2 separate regions of the Homo sapiens genome follow, and region 2 is linked to region 1. The links come from fine-mapping of genetic effects on gene expression. Tissue or cell type: whole blood. Region 1 holds a variant in brackets; the other region holds the start of a gene. All regions are shown on one strand. Distances are from middle to middle.

The links. PIP is the estimated chance that this variant, and not a neighbour inherited with it, causes the effect.
Region 2: SDC3 starts here. The variant in region 1 is fine-mapped to the expression of SDC3 in whole blood (INTERVAL, PIP above 0.99).

What each region holds. Positions count from the first base shown.
Region 1 is chr1:30,971,734-30,974,491 of GRCh38, forward strand. All of the region lies in intron 10 of PUM1 (pumilio RNA binding family member 1), which reads right to left. Among named protein-coding and RNA genes, the nearest start is that of SNORD103C, 4.9 kb to the left of the region's middle. The variant T/TA (reference allele first, on the strand shown) is at 1,519.
Region 2 is chr1:30,907,407-30,910,164 of GRCh38, forward strand. It overlaps SDC3 (syndecan 3), which reads right to left and starts at 1,352. Exons shown (of 5, transcript NM_014654.4): 1 at 1,043-1,352. The coding sequence starts at 1,180. RefSeq lists a silencer at 1,307-1,396.

The DNA.
Region 1 (2,758 bases):
GTACAACTATCATAATAAGAGAAATAGAAATTACATGTACAGCACTTAACTCTGCACAGAAAGCTTTCAATAAACAGCAATTAGTATTATTCTTGTTCACTGTATTAGACCTAATTTTAAAACATGGTAATTACTTTAGTCTTCCAAATGCATAATAATTTGGCAGCCATTTAAACAAAAAGATGATCACACAAATAAATACAGACTTATCCACAAAGAGCAGTTATTAAGAAATTTATTTGCTAGGTGCAGTGGTTCACACCTGTAACCCAGCACTCTGGGAGGCCAAGGTGGGTGGAACACTGGAGGTCAGGAGTTCGAGATCAGCCTGGACAACATGGTAAAACCCTGTCACTACCAAAAATACAAAAACTAGCCAGGTATGGTGGCACGTGCCTGTAATCCCAGCTACTAGGGAGGCTGAGGCACGAGAATTGCTTGAACCTGGGAGGCGAAGGTTGCAGTGAGCAAACTTGGCGCCACTGCACTCCAGGCTGGAAGACAGAGCAAGATTATGTCAGAAAGAAAAGAAAAGAAGGGAAGGGAAGGGAAGGGGAGGGGAGGGGAGGGGAGGGGAGGGGAGGGGAGGGGAGGGGAGGGGAGGGGAGGGGAGGGGAGGGGAGGGGAGGGGAGGGGAGGGGAGGGGAGGGGAGGGGAGGGGAGGGGAGGGGAGGGGAGGGGAGGGGAGGGGAGGGGAGGGGAGGGGAGGGGAGGGAAGAGAAGAGAAGAGAAGAGAAGAGAAATTAATTTATTTAATAGGCCAGGCACAGTGACTCATGCCTGCAATCCCAGCACTTTGGGAGGCCGAGGGGGGTGGATCACTGAAGGTCAAGAGTTCGAGATCAGTCTGGCCACCATGGTGAAATCCCATCTCTACTAAAAATACAAAAATTAGCCAGGTGTGGCGGCACACACCTGTAATCCCAGCTACTCAGGAGGCTGAGGCAGAAGAATCACTTGAACCCAGGAGGCAGAGGTTGCAGCGAGCCAAGAGCTCACTGCACTCCAGCCTGGGCAATAGAACTAGACTCCATCTCAAAAAAAACAAACAAAAAAAGAAATTTGGCCAGGCGTGGTGGCTCAGGCCTACAATCACAGCACTTTGGGAGGCCGAGACGGGTGGATCACCTGAGGTCAGGAGTTCGAGACCAGCCTGGCCAATGTGGTGAAACCCCGTCTCTACTAAAAAGACAAAAATTAGCCAGGCGTGGTGGTGGGGGCCTGTAATCCCAGCTACTTGGGAGGCTGAGGCAGGAGAATCGCTTGAACCCTGGAGGCAGAGGTTGCAGTGAGCCAAGATTGCACCATTGCACTCCAGCCTGGGCAACAAAAGCAAAATTCCGTCTCAAAACAAATTTATTTTAACAGATCACTCATTCTGTCAACAAATTATTTACTGAATTTCCTTATATATATGGTACAAGAACTGTATCTGTTGCCAAGAAAATCATTTAATAGTGTCCAAATAACGGGGGGAATTTCAAGACCTGTTTTTTTTTTCTGTAATTGTGTGGAATC[T/TA]AAAAAAAAAAAAAAAATTAAACATACACCCTCTGAGTAAGACTGATGTCAAGCAAAAAATTCTTGTTTGGATCATTTAATATATTCATATATGAGCAGGGTGTTTTGTCTCAAATGACAGCTTTTATCTGACAATGCGTATCGAAGCCTAAGTGCTGATTTTATTTGCTCCAGAAAAACTCCATTACTAGGAATTTTTTCCAAGGATAAACTTATGTAAAGGATGTTAATCAATCTCATTTAAAACACCAAAATACTGATACAAATGAAATATCAAATATAATAGACTAGTCAAAATAAAGTATCGTTTGGTGGATTTAAATGTACCTAGTAAAAATGTCATTTAAAAGAACACTAAATAACACAGTAAAGTATGAAATCAGAATGTAAAACCACGTGGACACAATAATGACAATTTTGTAAAATATTAAATAATAAGGCTAAAATAACAGATACCAAACATAATAGCATTGGTTTTCTGACATAAGGATTTAGGGTAATTTTTTTTTTCAAGTTTTCTAGTTTACCACAGTTTCTATCAATAAAGAGGTGTTATTGGCCAGGCACGGTGGTCACGCCTGTAATCCCAGCACTTTGGGAGGCCGAGGCGGGTGGATCACGAGGTCAGGAGTTTGAGACAAGCCTGACCAACATGGTGAAACCCCATTTCTACTAAAAATACAAAAATTAGCTGGGCATGGTGTAGCGTGCCTGTAATCCCAGCTACTCAGGAGGCTAAGGCAGGAGAACTGCTTGAATCCGGGATGCGGAGATTGCAGTGAGCTGAGATTGCACCACGGCATTCCAGCCTGGGCGACAGAGCTAGACTCCATCTCAAAAAAAAAAAAAAGGTGTTATTCTAGCAATCAAGGAGGAAATGACCTGTTTAAAAAAATAAAAGATGTAGTTTTGCAGTTTACCGTCCTTTCTCAACTCAAATAAAAAGCTAATGCAGATATGATAGTTTAAGATTTACATCCAATCCAATCCAATAGGTACTACAAATAAGCAGTCTAAAAATCTAGTACCCCTGCTTTAGTGTCAAGCCCCTTGCAAAACCCTGAAATGATCTGAAAGTGGTGCTTAGCAAGCAACTACAGTATGGCAGAACAAAATTTTACTGTAACTTTGAAGATCCACTTTGCCACTTGCAGCTAAGCAATTTCCCTATAGGTGAACTGGTTAGTATCGTTACCCCACCTAGGTACAATAGTGTCTAATATATAAAAGACATTCCGTA
Region 2 (2,758 bases), 64 kb before region 1:
ACCTCCACCTGCACATGCTTGGTTCCCCTCAGGGGTCCTCGTCCTATGTCCAGGGTCCCCCATGCACCTGCATGCACACGCTGCTATGTGCACTCACACACATTCATGGGTCCAAGCACACGCCCACCAGAGGTCTTTCACACACACACCCTCACCCACTGCAGCCACACACGGCCATAGCCAACAGTGGCCCAGCCAGGCACAGGCACACATCATGCACAATGGGTCACCCTCCCACGACCACGGACGGGAGGGCACGCTGGCATCCACCCATGTGGCAGACACATCCTTCACCTGCACACGCCCCACAGGTCCCCGCACCCCTCACTGAGTTGGCCACACACGCCCACACACGCCCACACACAGGGTTACCCTCACTCCCCCCTCAGGTCACCTTCACCAAGTCACCCTCCACCTCCACCTCCCCTTCCCGGGCCCACTGCCCTGGCCGGCTGCCGCGACCCTGGGAAGAACCAAATGCACACCCTCCCCTCGGAAGGGGAACCGATCCGATTCCCAAAAAGTGGCCATGGTCTGGGCACACCCACGAGGCAAAAGCCAGGCTCACTCCCACCCCAAGACACACCCAGCCGGGACGGCGACCCCCAGCCCGCCGCCGGGTCCTTCTCGCGCCTCCCAGGCCAGCGCAGGGGTCCCGCTTCGTCCCCGGGGAGACAGTTCCCGGAGCCACTGGGAGGTGGGGGAACAGGGCTGAGGACCCGCGATCGGGTTCCCTCCCGGGATTCCCTCTGGGGAGGGGTCCCAAAAGGAAGGAGAGATGCGCCCCCCGAAGATGACCAGCGGCGGGGGCGGCCTCTCCCCGCGGATGCCAGCTAGGGGGAGATTCCGGAGGGGGGGGAGCAGGGTGCAGAAAGGGGCGCTCGGGGGAGGGTCGAGGGGTGGCAGGGACCGCGGCCCCGGGGGAAGCAGCCGGGGGGGAGGGAGCGGGGTCCCGGAGGGGGGGTCGCGGGCGGGGACCGGCACCCCGCGCGGGGGGCGGCCCCGGGGAGCCGTGGCGGGGATCCGGGCGCGTGTCACTCACCCCCGCGGCGCGCCCCGCCAGCAGCAGCAGCAGCAGCGGTGGCAGGAGCAGCCCGCGGGCCCCGGGCCCGGCCGCGGCCCCGGCCCCGGCGCCGGCCCCGTGGGCGGCCCCGGCACGGTGCGGCGGCCCCGGCTTCATGGCGGCGGCGCGGGCGCGGGCGGCGGGCGGCGGGCGGGCGCCTTTGTTCCCGAGGCGCGGCGCGCGGGGCGGCTGCTTGGCGGCGGCGCGGCCCGGCGGCTGGACCGACGCGCTCTAGGCTCGCGGGCTCCCGGCTCGGCCGCCCGGCTCCGCCTCGCAGCTCCGCGCCCACAGCGGCCGCGCCCGCAGGAAGCGTGCGCCGCCGCCGCCGCCGCCGGGCCGCCCCCAGCGCGGGCGGAACGGAGGAGGGGCCCGGGGCGGGGCGGGCCCCAGTGCGCCCCCCGCGGGGCTCCGCGCCCTCTGACCCCAGTCCCAGCCCCCGCCCCCACCCAGAGGGAGCCCCGCGCTGCCGAGTGGGCACCCGGACACCTGAGTGAGCAGCCGGCCTCGCCGATCCCGGGGCTGGAGGTCGCGGAGCCCGCCGGACGCACCTCCGCGGCCGCCGTGCTAGGTAGAAGGGAAGGGTCCCGCGTGGGATACCAGGGCCCGGGCCTGGCTCCCTGAAGTCGCCGAGCGGAGGGGTCGCATGGGCGTTTTCATCTACAGCCTCCCCCTGTGGCTCCACGCACGTGTCTCTTCCTGGACTCCCATCGTCACCCTCACACACTCAGCCAGTCCACCCAGTGGGCCAGAGGTCATCCAAGACCACGGGCTTTCATGCCTCCAGGACACCCAGGGGCTGTGTGACCTCAGATCAGGGCCCGGCCCTCTCTGGGCCTCGGTCTCCCCAGGGGACCATGGGGGTGGTCACTTCTGGGCCCTGTCACTGTGGATCTGCAGAGGAAAAGCCACGCAGACCTGAGCGCAGCTGCTTCCACACCAGCTGTGCGCCTCCAGCAAGGCCCCCAGTTCTCTGAGACTCAGACCCCCCATGGTTGAATGGGACCACCCCCTCCAGTGCAGGATGGCGAGAAAAGTACATCTCTGAGTGGCAGTCTCTAGCGCTGGTGGTCTTTCTACCCTGTGTGGTCACGGTGCCTTTTCCCCCTTCACCTTCATCCCCAGCGGCATACCCCATGCTGTTCTTACTTCTCCAAGTCTCCAATGGCGTGTTAGCTCCAGCGGGGGCAGGGTTTTGTGTCTGTCTTGTTCACTGCTATGTCCCCAGCACCAGCACAGAGCTCGGCATGACATCGATGCTCAATCCAAATTTGCTGAATCAATGAATGTGTTTCCCATTTACTGGGGCTCAAAACCAAGTGTTTTGGGGCAAGATAGGGGAGAGTGAAACATTTCTGGAACCCTGACCACATGCCAGGTGCCCAGCGCTTTCATGTGTTATATCATTTCTCAGGAACCCCATAAGGTCGGTCTGTCAATATCTTCACTTCTTAGGTGGGGAAGCTGAGAGCCAGCAAGAAGAGGTTATTTGCTGATGACAGCTGGCTGGACGTCTCTACCCTCAGTTACTCTCCTCTCTGGCCCCTGTGTCCCAGCACCCAGCTTAGAGCCTGCCATTAGAAAATAGGAATGAAATCAGGCCGGTCGTGGTGGCTCACGCCTGTAATCCCACCACGTTGGGAGGCCGAGGCGGGTGGATCACGAGGTCAGGAGATCCTGGCCAACATGGTGAAACCC